Linked DNA regions of Homo sapiens. The protein of the gene in region 2 purifies or fractionates together with the protein of the main gene of each other region. This does not show direct contact. Each region holds a gene or a part of one and is shown on either strand. Other genes may lie near its edges.

Region 1 (4,857 bases), on a different chromosome or scaffold from region 2:
GAGTCCCATCTCTGGTCAAGCAGAGACTTTTCCTCTGTTGAACTGAGGAACACACTGTGCATTTCTACCTTCTGTTGTGAGCCACTCTTACTCTTTTCAGGGCTCTCTTGTGACAAACATGCCAATCACTAGCACTTTGCACCCCTGGGCTTCTCCATTTCCCATTCACAGCTTTGATTTCCAGAGCTGAGGCCTTTAACTGGAGACCTGGAGGGGCAGGGCCCAAGGGCAAGGGCCGCATTAGCACAGGCAATCAGGGAGGGCCGCTGAAGGACACTTGGACCGTCCACCTGCCCCAGCCCAACAGTCAGTCATCTGTCATCAGCTCAGCTGAGCAGCCCTGGATCTTTGCCGTACTGTGACTGGGCTCTTTGCCCTATTTTTCCCTCTGTCTGTGCCCCTGGATGGCAGGCTGAAGTCAGAGGGGCTGTTTCATTCTCAGCCCCCTCAGCAGCACTGGGGGAAGAAAGCATTGTCACAACAGGTTCTTTCTGGCCCTCACCCAACAGCCTGGGCACTTGGCCCTCCTCCTCCTTGACAGCCCTCCCCCTTCCTGCAAAGGACAGGGGCGACAGGGGTTGGTGTTGGGATTGGCTCCCGCTGCCTGACAACCACAAGTTTATTTGGAAGGCTAGCGGGAAGCCCAGCGGCTGGCGTTTCCCTTGACTAAGGAACAGGGTGCCCATCAGAGTGGGGCGGGCAGCTTTGGGAAGGACACAAGAAGCAGTAAGAGTGTAAAGAGGATGCTGGCCTGGGCAGGCCAGTCCAGCCTGGCCACTAGCAGAATACCAAGCAGTCCAGTGGATTACCCTCGTGGCTAAGCAAGTGTCTGCAGGAGCAGAGATGGCTGGAAGGGGCCTCTGCACACGGAAGATGGCTTGTTCAGCCCATTCACCTCCTGAGGATGTGGGCAGTCTCCTCCAAGAACACATGGAGCTGCTTCCTGATCCCAAGCAGGTCATTGCCACTGGAAGGACATGGCCCCGGTGATCCATGCTTCATGCCCACCCAGAAACACACCCCTCAGTGTGTGCCTCAGTTTACTTTGGAGATCAGTTGTCGTTTTTAGTGCTCCTTTAGGCTTACTAAAACAGTTTTGGAAACAAAGCTATTTTGAAGTATTCAAGCAGAGGAATTCCCTAACACTGACCCCCTTGTCTTTTTTTAATATTCAGGCTGTTTTATATGCCTAAATTTTTTTCTTAAGATCTAAACGAAAAATAGTTTCTTGTTTAAATTCACATAAGGCAATGAGATATGGAAAGATGACAAGATACGTATAAACATTGGTTTGCATTTTATTAAATTATTCTAATGCAAATCTTGTATAAAGAACCCATGATGTTTTGTAACTTTCTAATTAAAATGTTCAAAATGAGGCCGAGCATGGTGGTTCATTCCTGTAATCTCAACACTTTGGGAGGCCAAGGTGGGAGGATCACTTGAGCCCAGGAGCTTGAGGCTGCAGTGTGCTATGATTGCACCACTGTACTGTAGCCTGGGTGACAGAGTGAGACCCTATCTGTTAAAATAAATAAATAAATAAATAAAAAAGTCAAAATGGAAGATCACATGTACCTTTTTCGAGGGAAAGGGTTTGGAATGGCAAAGAATAGGGAGGGCAGAGGTTGCACACACCTGTCTTTATTACTCATCTACAGCCATGCTTTACAAGGCTCTGCCTAACGACCTTGGAACTTCCATGAGGTCTTTGGTGAAAGTCCCCTAGTTCTTCCCCAGGTAGATGAGTTTTCAGTGGGATTCACATGCCATGTGAAATCTACGTGTTGGATAATTATGACTGTGTCTGGTGAATATGAAATTATTTACAGACCAGATGTTGATAGTTTCTGACTCTGAATCACAGCATAGCTGCAAGAGGTAAATAAAAAGCAAGAGGCCGGGAGCGGTGGCTCACGCCTGTAATCCCAGCACTTTGGGAGGCCGAGGTGGGTGAATCACAAGGTCAGGAGATCGAGACCATCCTGGCCAACATGGTGAAACCCCATCTCCACTAAAAATACAAAAATTGGCTGGGTGTGGCGACACGTGCCTGTCATCCCAACTATTTAGTAGGCTGAGGCAGGAGAATCGCTTGAACCCTGGAGGCGGAGGTTGCAGTGAGCCGAGATTGCGCCACTGCACTCCAGCCTGGCAACAGAGCTAGACTCCGTCTCAAAAAAAAAAAAAAAAAGAAATATAGAGGATTTTATTAACTCAGCTCCGACCCATAGCTAAGTTAAGGTTTGATGTTATTACTGAATATTTGGAGGCAGAAAGACTCCTGATTTTGCCAAATGATTAGTACAGTTTCGGCTTAAGTCAGATGAGGCCCCCCTAATATTCCATCATGTAAGGCTAATAAAGCAATTATTTCTTTTTTTTTTTTCCTTCCAACTTTTATTGTAGACTCATGGGGTATATGTATGGGTTTCGTATATAGCTAAATTGTACAACCTGGGGGTTTGGTGTACAGATTATTTCATCACCCACGTAATAAGCATAGTACCCAGTAGGTGGTTTTTCTTTTCTTTTTCTTTTTCTTTTTTTTTTTTTTTTTTGAGACAGAGTCTCACTCTGTTACCCAGGCTGGAGTGCAGCAGCATGATCTCAGCTCATTGCAGCCTCTACCTCCCAGGTTCAAGTGATTCTCCTGCCTTACCCTCCCGAGTAGCTGGGATTACGGGTGCCCACCACCATGCCCGGCTAATTTTTGTGTTTTTAGTAGAGACAGGGCTTCACCCTGGTGGTCAGGCTGGTCTCGAACTCCTGACCTCAAGTGATCCATCCGCTTTGGCCACCCAAAGTGCTGGGATCACAGCAGTTTGATCACAGAAGTTATTATGGTTGGCATTCTGGCACACATCTTTCTAATCTTTTTTGTTGTATGTAACCTTTTTAGTATCACAAACAACACTTTTATAAACCTTGTGTAGAAATCATTGTTGCTGGTTTATTTCCTTAAGATACATTCAGAAAACTTATGACCATTGTTAAGGATCTTAATTCATTGCCAAACCACAGCCAGGAAAGACTGCTAATTTCTACTCCCAGCAGCAGGGACTCCTCGTTTCAGATACCACCATGGATTAAAGGACCTCCCAATGCTCTATCCTTTTCAGATTACTGGACTCTGCCCGTTTGTTTCTTTGTTTTTGAGATGGAGTCTCGCTTTGTCACCCAGTCTGGAGTGCAATGGCCCCATCTCCGCTCACTGCAGCCTCCACCTCCGGGGTTCAAGCTATTCTCCTGTCTCAGCCTACCTAGTAGCTGGGATTACAGGCATGTGCTACCATGCGCGGCTAAATTTTGTATTTTCAGTAGAGATGGGGTTTTGCCACGTTGACCAGGCTGGTCTTGAACTCCTGACCTCAAGTGATCTGCCTGCCTTGCCTCCCAAAGTGCCGGGATTACAGTCATATGCCACCAGGCCAGGCTGAGCTGTTATTTGTAAGGGGTGGGTGGGGAGCTTTTATTTACTGAAACATATCCTGTATTCATTGGAACATGTTATCAAGCCTGCGCCTCTGGGCGGAGGCTAGGGCAGGGAGGGCACAGCTCCTAAGGCCACCTGGTCTTTCAACTCCTCCCAGCTGGGACACTGCACCGGGAGGCAGCACGGATTCCTGTGTCATCAAGGTGCCTGGGTCTTGGCTTAGGGCTGAGGTTGGGGCCTTGGGAAGGGTTTGGATTCCAAGTCCCTTGGCTGCAAGGATGCCCCCAAGAGCGAGGAGGGCCAAGATTAAGATTCGACTTCCTTCACTAGGGCCTTTGTCCTCCCAGGAGCTCCCAGGTTCTCTGGCGATTGGGGGGGTGAGGAAGGGTTACAACGTTCATTTGTGGTCAGTTAGATGAGAAGTGACTCTGCCAGCGTCCTTTGACATCCCCGGCTAAAAGGTGCGCCTCTTAGAGCCCCAGCCCACCTGGGCCCTCCTGCTCTGCCCTCGGCCAGCGCCCCTCCCCGAGACATGGCCCCTCGGTCGGGGGTGGGGAGAGGGAGCTGGGGGCAAAACCTGCTCCTTCCTTCCTTCTCCCATTTCCCTGGCTCCCGCCGGCCACCCTGGGACCGCAGCCACGTCTGAAAGCTCCTCACCAGGCAGCGCTGAAGATTGCGGGGCAGCGCCGAGGGTTGTTGGCCGGCGCGCGGGGAGTAGAGGGCGCGGGCCGCAGTGCCGGGCTCCGGAGGGAGCTCTGCGCCGGGTCCTTCCCTGTGGTAGCCCCAGGACACCCCCATCCTCAACATCCCATTCTGGGACTCCTGCCCTGTTCCCAGATTCGCTCTGCCTCGAGTCTCCAGGAGCTTCCAGTGGCTTGGTTACCCCCGACTCTTCGTCCATGCCTCTTAGAGCCCCTTTCCCAGCCTCACTGGGTGTCCCTTAATAGTCTTGGGACCTTAAGGAGCAAGTCAGCCCCTGCGGAACCTCCCAGTGAAGAGAAAGAGCTGGCTGTGCGGTGGAACTTGGAAGAGACGACGTCTGGGAGCTTTTGCTGAGCCCAGGGGGAGAGGCGTCCCTCTGGCTGCTGCTCCAGCTCTGGCAGACACGCCAAGCTTTGAGGTACTTTGGTTCTTCATTCTCCACCGGAGGTGTCCCCACACTCGGTTGGGCTGGGGGCCGGGCCAGTGGCCCAGCTGTGACGCTCCTCTGTCCTGCACCAGAGACCTGGGTTGGCGGGAAGAGCTGGGGGTGGCTTTTCCATCAGCAACGTGGAAAGTTCATCTCCCCTGCTAGCGCTGGTTTGGAAGTGTCTTGCTGGGGCTTCGGCTGCACGCGGGAATCCTCACTGCGCAGGGCAGGGGTCGGGGTGCGGGTTCTTATTCCATACTTGGGTCTCAAAGGGTGTGGCTTTCAAAAGCTC
Region 2 (9,746 bases):
GATGCAGCCAAATAAGTTACGTAGAGTTTGGCAGATTTTTTTTTTTTTTTTGAGATGGATTCTTGCTCTGTCACCCAGGCTGGAGTGCAGTGGTGTAATCTTGGCTCACTATAACCTCCACTTCCTGGGTTCAAGCAGTTCTCCTGCCTCAGTCTCCCAAGTAGCTGGGATTACAGGTGTTCACCACCATATGCCTGGCTAATTTTTGTATTTTAGTAGAGACGGGGTTTCACCATGTTGGCCAGGCTGGTTTCGAACTCCTGACCTCAGGTGATCCACCTGCCTTGGCCTCCCAAAGTGCAGGGGTTACAGGCGTGAGCCACGGCGACTGGCTCAGTTTGGCTAATTTTACCAGAACTTTAGTTTTTAATGAAGGATACTGTTTGTTTCTTTCTTTTCTTTTTTTTTTTTAATTGGAGACAGAGTCTTGCTCTGTCGCCCAGGCTGGAGTGCAATAGGGTGATCTCAGCTCACTGTACCCTCCACCTCCCAGGTTCAAGCAATTCTCATGCCTTAGCCTCCTGAGTAGCTGGGATTACAGGCACCTGCCACCAATCCCGGCTAATTTTTGTATTTTTTTGTATTTTTTTTTTTTTGAGACAGTCTCACTGTCACCCAGACTGGAGTGTAGTGACACAGTCTCCACTCACTGCAACCTCTGCCTCCTGGGTTCAAACGATTCTTCTGCCTCAGCCTCCCGAGTAGCTGGGATTACAGGTGCCTGCCCCCATGCCTGGCTGATTTTTTGTATTGTTAGTAGAGAGGGGGTTTCACTGTGTTGGCCAGGCTGGTCTTGAACTCCTGACCTCGTGATCTGCCTGCCTCAGCCTCCCAAAGTGCTGGGATTACAGGCGTGAGCCACCGCACCCGGCCTAATTTTTGTATTTTTAGTAGAGACAGGGTTTCGCCATGCTGGCCAGGCTGGTCTCGAACTCTTGACCTCAGGTGATCTGCCCACCTCGGCCTCCCCAAGTGCTGGGTGTCTCTTTCTGATGTGTTGTACTTCTCAAATTTATTCATTGGCTCATCAAATGTTAGTGGAGTTCCTACGCCGTAGTAGGGAACTAGATAGCGGGCCCCTGCCCTGGCGGAACTGACCCTCTGGTCTTTCATCTCACAAACATTTTACCAAGTGCATGCTCCATGGCAAGCTATGAGCCAGGTGCTGGAGATATAGAAATGAAAGGAACAGATCTCATTCTGGGTACTGTGATGGCATAGAGGAGGCAGCTAATGCTGACTTGGTGGGACCAGGGCAGGCTTCCTCAAGGAAGCAGTGACCGTGCCATGTTAGGGAGCTGGAGATAGGGAGGGCAGGGGCAGGGCACTTGGGGAAGGCCACGCAAGCAGAGAGAACCTCCCAGTAACAGAGTCAGGCTCAAAGAGGGTCTTTAATTTATGAACATATTCTTGTATTTGCAGAAACTCCTTTAAATAACGGATCAACCCCTAGAATTGTGAATGTGGAAGAACATTATATTTTCAAATGGAATAATAATACCATCAGTGAAATAAATGTTAAAATTTTTAGGGCAGAGATTAATGCCCACCAGAAAGGTAACTTTGATGAGGGTAGCAAGCATGCTTTCACTGAAAAGTATTTTTTTTTCCTCTTTTCAAGATTCTCATAATTATAACCCATAAAACTAAGTTGGACTTGTTTCTTATGTGCATTTATGATTTAATTAACGAGAGTACACTTTGTATGACAAAATGCAATTTTAAGGTAAACACTATGGAGAATAATTTCTTTTCCTAGTGAAATGGTGCACATTATATTTTATTTTGTTTTATTTCTAGGGATAATGACACAGAGATTTGTAGTAAAATTTTTAAGCTATAATAGTGGTAATGAAGAAGAATTATCTGGAAATCCAGGTAAGATGAGTATATGCCAGTCATTGATCTTACAAACATACTTTAGTTCAACACTCCCAGCCATCAGGATGGTTATAAGTAACTCTCTCCAATTTAGTTTCTGACTCTGACCTTTTTCTTTATTTTCTCTTTTTCTTTTTTTGAGACGGAGTCTTGCTCTGTTGCCTAGTCTGGAGTGCAGTGGCGCAATCTCGGCTCACTGCAACCTGCACCTCCTGGGTTCAAGAGATTTTCTTGCCTCAGCCTCCTGAGTAGCTGGGATTACAGGTGCACACCACCATGCCTGGCTTTTTTTTTTTTTTTTTAATCACACAACACAGGAAGTTTTATTCATCTGCTACTTCTCCAAAGAGAGGCTTGCAGGGTTGCTCACTTTAATATAATTTTTATATTTTTAGTAGAGATAGGCTGTTGTTCACCGTGTTGGCCAGGCTGGTCTTGAATTCCTGACCTCAAGTGATCCCCTGGCCTTAGCCTCCCAAAGTGTTGTGATTACAGGCATGAGCCACTGCCCCAGCCTCTTTATTCTCTGTTGTGGCACTGTATTCATTTTTTTTTTTTTTGAGACGGAGTTTAACTCTTGTCACCCAGGCTGGAGTGCAATGGCACGATTTGGGCTCACTGCAACCTCCACCTTCCAGGTTCAAGCAATTCTCCTGCCTCAGCCTCCCAAGTAGCTGGGATTACAGGTGCCCACCAACACCCTCAGCAAATTTTTGTACTTTTAGTAGAGATGAGGTTTTGCCATATTGGCCATACTGGTCTCGAACTCCTGACCTCAGGTGATCCACCCACCTCGGCCTCCCAAAGTGCTAGGATTACAGGCGTGAGCCACTACGCCTGGCCGACATGGTATTCTTTTTGTGATAACAATGTATTTTTTTTTTTTACATAGTCTGTTGTACATAGTAACAAGTTGCTGTAAATGTGAAGCATTCTTTCTCTTTAGCTACTGTTTTTTTTGAGACCCGAAGTTGCCATCTTTCTCTCAAGGGTATTTTCGAAAGCTTCGCCTATGTGTTTTCTTTCCTTGTGCATGACTCTTGTATTATTTGCAGAGTTAGGGCTTGCTATGCTGGAGGAAACAGGCTCACGTTCCTTTGTTGTGTTTGTCTAGGTTACCAACTTGGCAAGCCTGTCCGAGCTCTAAATATCAACAGGATGAATAATGTCACGACTTTACATCTTTGGCAATCGGGTAATCCGGTTTGGTCATTATGATTAGCCCTTTGGCAAATTGGTGTTAGAAGTATTACCATATTTTGAATCTAATCAAGCAATCAATTATTTTAAAGCCTAGTTGGTTTATTTAGCAGAGAGGTACATGCTGCTGAATAACAGTGATGATGGTTTTTCCTGCTTCTACAGCTTTTTAAAAAGGAATGCTAACATTGTTTGCACCTGAAGTGCTGGTTGCTAGTAGAAAAGATTGAAATATGAGATTGGCTTGAGAGTCCCATGTTATTGTTGCCTGTAGCCCAGGATGGTGCTAATTGGAGACATGAAAATAACTTCGTTCTGAACTGCAGGAAATCTGTGCTTCAGTGGTAATTACGCACACCTGCCAGAGGCAGTGTCACTTCTGAAGAAACCACCGCTCAGGATCTGAGAAGTCTGATAAAGGCACCTTTGTTCAGCTTTGAAAGGATTAGACTAACAGTGATCTCAGTTTTTGAAAACTGGCAACTTTATTTCTACTTACTGTTTTCTGTTTTTCACGGAAAACTGAAGTTAATCTTTACTTTTGTTTAGCAAAAAGTAGCAAGAGGATAATCTTTTTCTTTTATAGCTGGAAGGGGTCTGTGTACATCAGCAACTTTCAAACCCATTTTATTTGGAGAAAATGTACTCTCTGGATGCCTGTTAGAAGTCGGGATTAATGAAAATTGTACTCAGCTCAGGTGAGTGTTTCATTGATGAATATATCGGCAATGTGAATGGTTTGCCTAGAATTAATTCACTACATGAATATCAAAGACAGCATGAATATGAAAAATTAGAGTCAATTAAAATGTGTAAAAGTGATAATAAATACAGACATGTAATACAATTTAGAGTTGATTCAAACATCAATATGAGGGAAAATAAACTTTTTCTTGGGACTAAAGCCAGTTCATCCACATTTAAGCAAATTTCATCCACATTTAAACAAATGTCTCTGCCAAAGTTTGTTCAGCTCATTGGAACCTTTTTTGTTGTTGTTGTGTGGTTTTTTTTGTTGAGATGAAGTCTCACTTTGTCACCTAGGCTGGAGTGCAGTGGTGCGATCTCGGCTCATTGCAGCTTCTGCCTCTCCGGTTCAAGCAATTCTCCTGCCTTAGCCTCCCTAGCAGCTGGGATTACAGGCATGCACCACCACGCCTGCTGATTTTTTTTGTATTTTTAGTAGAGATGGGGTTTCACAATGTTGGTCTCAAACTCCTAACCTCAAGTGACCTTGCCCACCTTGGCCTCCCAAAGTGCTGGGATTATAGGCGTAAGCCACCGCGCCTGGCCTCATTGGAACCTTATACTCCTAGAGCTATGAAAAAGGCCAGAGCAAAGTGTAACTGGGGTGATTAACTTTTTTTTTTTTTTTTTTGAGACAGGGTCTCACTGTGTTTCCCAGGCTCGGGTGCAGTGGTGCAATCATGGCTTACTGCAGCCCCAACCTCCCCAGGCTCAGGTGGTCCTCCACCTGCCTTGGCTTCCTAAAGTGCTGGGATTACAGGCATGAGTCACTCTGCTGGCCTATGTTCTGTTTTTGTTTTTGTTTTTGTTTTGAGACAGAGTTTCACTCTTGTTGCCCAGGCTGGAGTGCAATGGCATAATCTCAGCTCACTGCAGCCTCTGCCTCCCAGGTTCAAGTGATTCTCCTGCCTCAGCCTCCTGAGTAGCTGGGATTACAGGCATGTGCCACCTCACCTGGCTAATTTTGTATTTTTAGTAGAGATGGGGTTTCTCCATGTTAGTCAGGCTGGTCTTGAACTCCTGACCTCAGGTGATCTGCCCTCCTCAGCCTCCTAAAGTGCTGGGATTACAGGTGTGAGCCACTGTGCCCAGCCTTGTTTTTTGTTTTTTTGTTTTTGTTTTTTTTTTTGACAGTAGCCATCCTAATAGATACTAAGTGGTATCTCATTGTGGTTTTGATTGCATGCGTTCTTTTTGGCTTGTTTTTTGAGACAAGGTCTCACTCCATCACCCAGACTGGAGCGCAGTGGTGTGATCACGGCTCGTTGCAGCCTGACCCTCTTGAGCTCAGGTGATCCTCCCACTTCACCCTCCCGAGTATCTTGGAGTACAGGTGTGTGCCTGGCTGATTTTTCGTATTTTTTGTAGAGATGGGGTTTCACCGTGTTGCTCAGGCTGCTCTCAAACTGCTGGGCTCAAACGATCCTCCTGCCTTGGCCTCCCAAAGTGCTGGGGTTACAAGCATGAACCATTATGCCCGGCCTGCATGCACTCTTACACACGTTTTATCTGTTACATATCCCAAGATGTGTAGTTCTTTGGGAAGCAGGAAGAAATGGGGGTAACATTGAGAAGTTAAGGAAAACTGGTATAAATTATTGGCAGCAGCTCCTGATTATAGGTTTTGAGGCCTGAGTCCATGGGCAGAGTCCCTCTCCTGCAGTTCATGAGATTTGTACCCTCCAGTGACAGTACTGGGAAGGAGGGAATGCTACGTTCCAACTCTTAGTCTTCACTTAATTTTATGACTCAAAATTCCAGCTAGATATATAGGTTACTTTTACTGTTGGATCACTCTGGCCCACGAATGTATCCTGCTAACTTGATGTGTGCTCTAACTACCTCCTAAGTTTGGTGACAGTCGGCAGAGTTTGTGAACCATGTGATTCCCAACTTAAGTTACTAACATTTTTTTTTTTTTTTTGAGACAGGATCTTGCTCTGTCACCCAGGCTGGAGTGCAGTGGTACGATCTCAGCTCACTGTAGCCTTAACCCCACCAGGCTTATGCGCTCCTCCCACCTCAGCCTCCCAAGTAGTTGGAACTATAGGTGCATACCACCATGCCTGGCTAATTTTTGTATTTTTTGTAGAGGCAGGGTTTTGCCCTGTTGCCCAGGCTGGTCTTGAACTCCTGAGCTCAAGCAATCCTCCCACCTCAGCCTCCCAAAGGGTTGGGATTACAGGTGTGAGCCACTGCACCCGGCCAAGTTACTAACATTTTAAGTCTAAAGTAAAAGATTGCTTCTGTATGTTCTCCCCCAGGTGTGTGGGTCCATCCTGGGAAGGCCATCAGACACACCTAGTCCATGGGTGACACCCAGCCAGTTTTTAATGCCAGTTCCTCTGGCAGTTTTTAATTTAGGCACTCGGAAGTGAAACCCGGACATTCACTGGAAATGACTTTAGGACAAGACCTGCTGGCCATGAGCTGAGAAATGTCTTACTCTCTTGCAGGGAGAATGCTGTTGAAAGACTTGATTCATTAATACAAGCGACTCACGTTGCAATGAGAGGCAACTCCGATTACGCTGATCTTAGTGATGGCTGGCTCGAAATAATACGTAAGTCAAACCCGGGTACAATAAAGCCTGTAACTTGGTTGCTGTGACTACCAACTGTAGTCGCAGCATTAGAGCCCAACCCAGTAGGTCATCTTCCTGAGGCTTGACTGCGGCTTAACTGGACGTTTGCCCAGGGGTTAGATCTCCAGGCAGGAAACTTGGCATGTCTTTTTCTTCTTATTCACAATGACTTTTTTGATTTTCTGTTTTTGTTTTTTTGAGACAGGGTTTCATTCTGTCACCCAGGCTGGAGTGCAGTGGTGCAATCACAGCTCATTGCCTCCTCATCCTCCCAGGCTCAAGGGATCCTCCCGCCTCAGCCTTCCAAGTAGCTGGAACCACAGGTGTGCGCCACCACATCTGGCTAATTTTTTTATTATTTGTAGAAATGGGTTTCGCCATGTTGCCCAGGCTGGTCATTAACTCCTGGGCTTAAGTGATCTGCCCACCCCAACCTCTTAAACCCCAACCATGTTGGGATTACAGGCATGAGCCATTGCGCCTGGCCAACAACAGTCTTTGTGAAAGAAAGTCTAGGCTGGGAGCAGTGGCTCACACTTATAATCCCAGCACTTTGGGAGGTCAATGCAAGAGGATTGCTTGAGGCCAGTTTTTTTGTTTGTTTGGTTGGTTTTTTTTGAGACGGAGTCTTGCTCTTGTCACCCATGCTGGAGTGCAATGGCACAATCTCGGCTCACTGCAACCTCTGCCTCCTAGGTTCAGGTGATTCTCCTGCCTTAGCCTCCCAAGTAGCTGGGATTACAGGCGCCCACCACCACCTGGCTAATTTTTGTATTTTTTAAATAGAGACGGGGTTTCACCATGTTGGCCAGGCTGGTCTCGAACTCCTGACCCCGTGATCCACCTGCCTCGGCCTCCCAAAGTGCTGGGATTATAGGCGTTAGCCACCGTGCCAGGCCGAGGCCAGGAGTTTAAGACCAGCCTGGGCAACATAGTGAGACCTTGTCTCTATGAAAAATTTAAAAAATTAGTCGAATGTGGTGGCATGTCCCTGCAGTCCCAGCTACTTGGGATGCTGAGGAAAGAGGATCGCTGGAGCCTAGGAGTTTGAGGCTACAGTGAGCTCTGATTACACCATCACACTCCAACCTGGATGACAGAGCAAGATCCTGACTCTAAAAATAAAACAAAATAAAATAAAATACATTAAAACAAAGTCCAAGCAAGGTTTGAAGATTGTTAGTGCACTTCAGTTTGCATTGCTGTTTTTGATTGCCAGGAATACAGGCATTTGAGAATTGACTTTGTAATTTATAAAGGTAATTTTGTTAACTTAAAAGAAAATAAAGTGATTGAAAATATTGTGATAGAAGCCAGACACAAAAGACCACATATTGTATGACTCAATTTATATGCAATGTCCAGAATGGGCAATGTATAGAGACAGCAGATTAGTGGATGCCGGAGGTGGAGGAGTTGGGAGGAAATGGGGAGAGACTGCCGTGGGTAAAGGATTTCTTCGCAGAGTGATAAAATGTTCTAAAATAGAATCTGCTGATAGTCACAGCTTTGTGACTATACCAGAAACCATCGAATTGCACACTTTAAGTAGGTGGATTGTATAGTATGTGAATTATATCTCAATAAAGCTGTCAGGAAAGAAAGTAATTAAGGTGCAACAGATCGGCTGGGCACGGTGGCTCATATCTGTAATCCCAGCACTTTGGGAGGCCGAGGCGGGTGGATCACGAGGTCAGGAGATCGAGAGCATCCTGCCTAACACAGGTGAAACCCCGTCTCTACTAAAAATAAAAAAAAAAAATTAGCCGGGCGTGGTGGTGGGCGCCTGTAGTCCCAGCTACTCGGGAGGCTGAGGCAGGAGAATGGTAGGAACCCGGGAGGCGGAGCTTGCTGTGAGCCGAGATTGCGCCACTGCACTCCAGCCTGGGCGACAGAGCAAGACTCCGTCTCACAAAAAAAAAAAAAGGGTGCAACAGATCTAATAATAGCAGGGATCATGGGGGCCAGATAGAAAGACTTGACAGCTCAGTGCCTCTGGCCAAAGGTATTTGCAGTGTTGAATTGGCAAGTAGCTCGTACACAAAGGGAAAAAGATATACCACATGTACATGGAATAAAGGTAAACCAGACTTTAAAGCTTCTTCATCAGGCCTGATTTCACCTCTGAATCCAAAATATCCTTTGAGTCATGGAGATCCAGCTCATCGGGTTATGTTGGAGAGGCCTAAGGTCACAGTGAGTTTTGGCAGAGCTAGAATGAAAACCTGGGGTTCCAACCTCTTTCCTCTGTTCCCTGGTAGCAAGTTAGGTAACTTCCCGGTTTCTTGGGGAGCCTTGAGTCTGTAAATACTTTGAATGGAAAGCTTTTTTTATTGAGCTAATTAATGGAATTGCCTTTTGGGACCAGAAAGAGCCCAATGAGTGTGCGCATCTGCTTTGCCCCTGCCCAGCTCTCCCTGCAGATGCTGCTCTGCCCCTCTCCTCTGCCTGGTGGGTAGGGATCAGCCCTCTGGATCCTGTCCCTACCCTTTCCATCTCCTCTGAGGTCAGCTAGGCTCAGTAGGCTGGAATTCACACAACGGCCCATACAGACACACACCTGTATTGTGCCTACTCCTTGTGATTGGGGTCATGGTGATGAGGACCCTCCCTTCCCCCTCTTGGTCATGGATAATGTGATATGTCTGTGAGCTTGAGGTGCCCCAGACCACTCTCTGACTTGGGGAGGGAGTCCTGTTGGACTCCACCCCCACGGGGCACTCAGGCTGCTGTTTGCTCATCTAGCTGGTGCTCAAGGCACTGGGCCCAGACCTAGATCCTCATTTGCAAACGGAACCCAGAGGTCGAGCTTGTCAAGCCCTGGGCTCTGCCACCCAGGCCAGCTAGATAGGCTGTGGAATGACCCTGAGGGCTGGAGAAAAGTCAGCAGTTGGGAAATAAACGGTAGGGAAAATGTCCAGACGGAGAACCCAGGTTGATGAGGTACGAAATCAGTGTGGTGATGACATTTTGTTGCCTTCAAGGTGGAAGGGGTTAGCTTTTATTTCATGTCTGAGCCAAAAAGCAACCTTGATCCTGGTTAATAAGCAGAAGAGAAGTGGTGTTGACACATGTATAAGGAAATTAGACATAAAACAGTGTTACTGACCTTCGGAATCCCTGAAGGAGCAAAGAACCCCCTTCAGAGGAGCCATAGAACCTACCCTACTTCCTCCAATTGACCTTGCTGGGTTTTCTCCAAGACGAATGCAAATTCATTTCTCATTCAATTTCATTCTCTTCCAATTGTATTAATACTATGGTAACACATTAGGAAATTACTTACCTATCTAATACATACTAATTAAAGTCGTTAGTGTGGATTTTGTTTTAT

Evidence for each region.
Region 1: the proteins of TCTN2 (region 2) and TMEM231 purify together in Homo sapiens (affinity purification with mass spectrometry; 5 studies listed by BioGRID and IntAct, with this or other methods). This does not show direct contact.

Annotation. Positions count from the first base shown.
Region 1 is NC_000016.10:75,534,826-75,539,682, reverse strand, and holds the end of TMEM231 (transmembrane protein 231), read left to right. Parts: 3' UTR 1-2,942; downstream 2,943-4,857. UniProt on the Homo sapiens protein: Transmembrane component of the tectonic-like complex, a complex localized at the transition zone of primary cilia and acting as a barrier that prevents diffusion of transmembrane proteins between the cilia and plasma membranes.
Region 2 is NC_000012.12:123,693,420-123,703,165, forward strand, and holds part of TCTN2 (tectonic-2 isoform 1 precursor), read left to right. Parts: intron 1-1,422; coding exon 1,423-1,557; intron 1,558-1,800; coding exon 1,801-1,878; intron 1,879-2,995; coding exon 2,996-3,076; intron 3,077-3,667; coding exon 3,668-3,779; intron 3,780-6,284; coding exon 6,285-6,391; intron 6,392-9,746.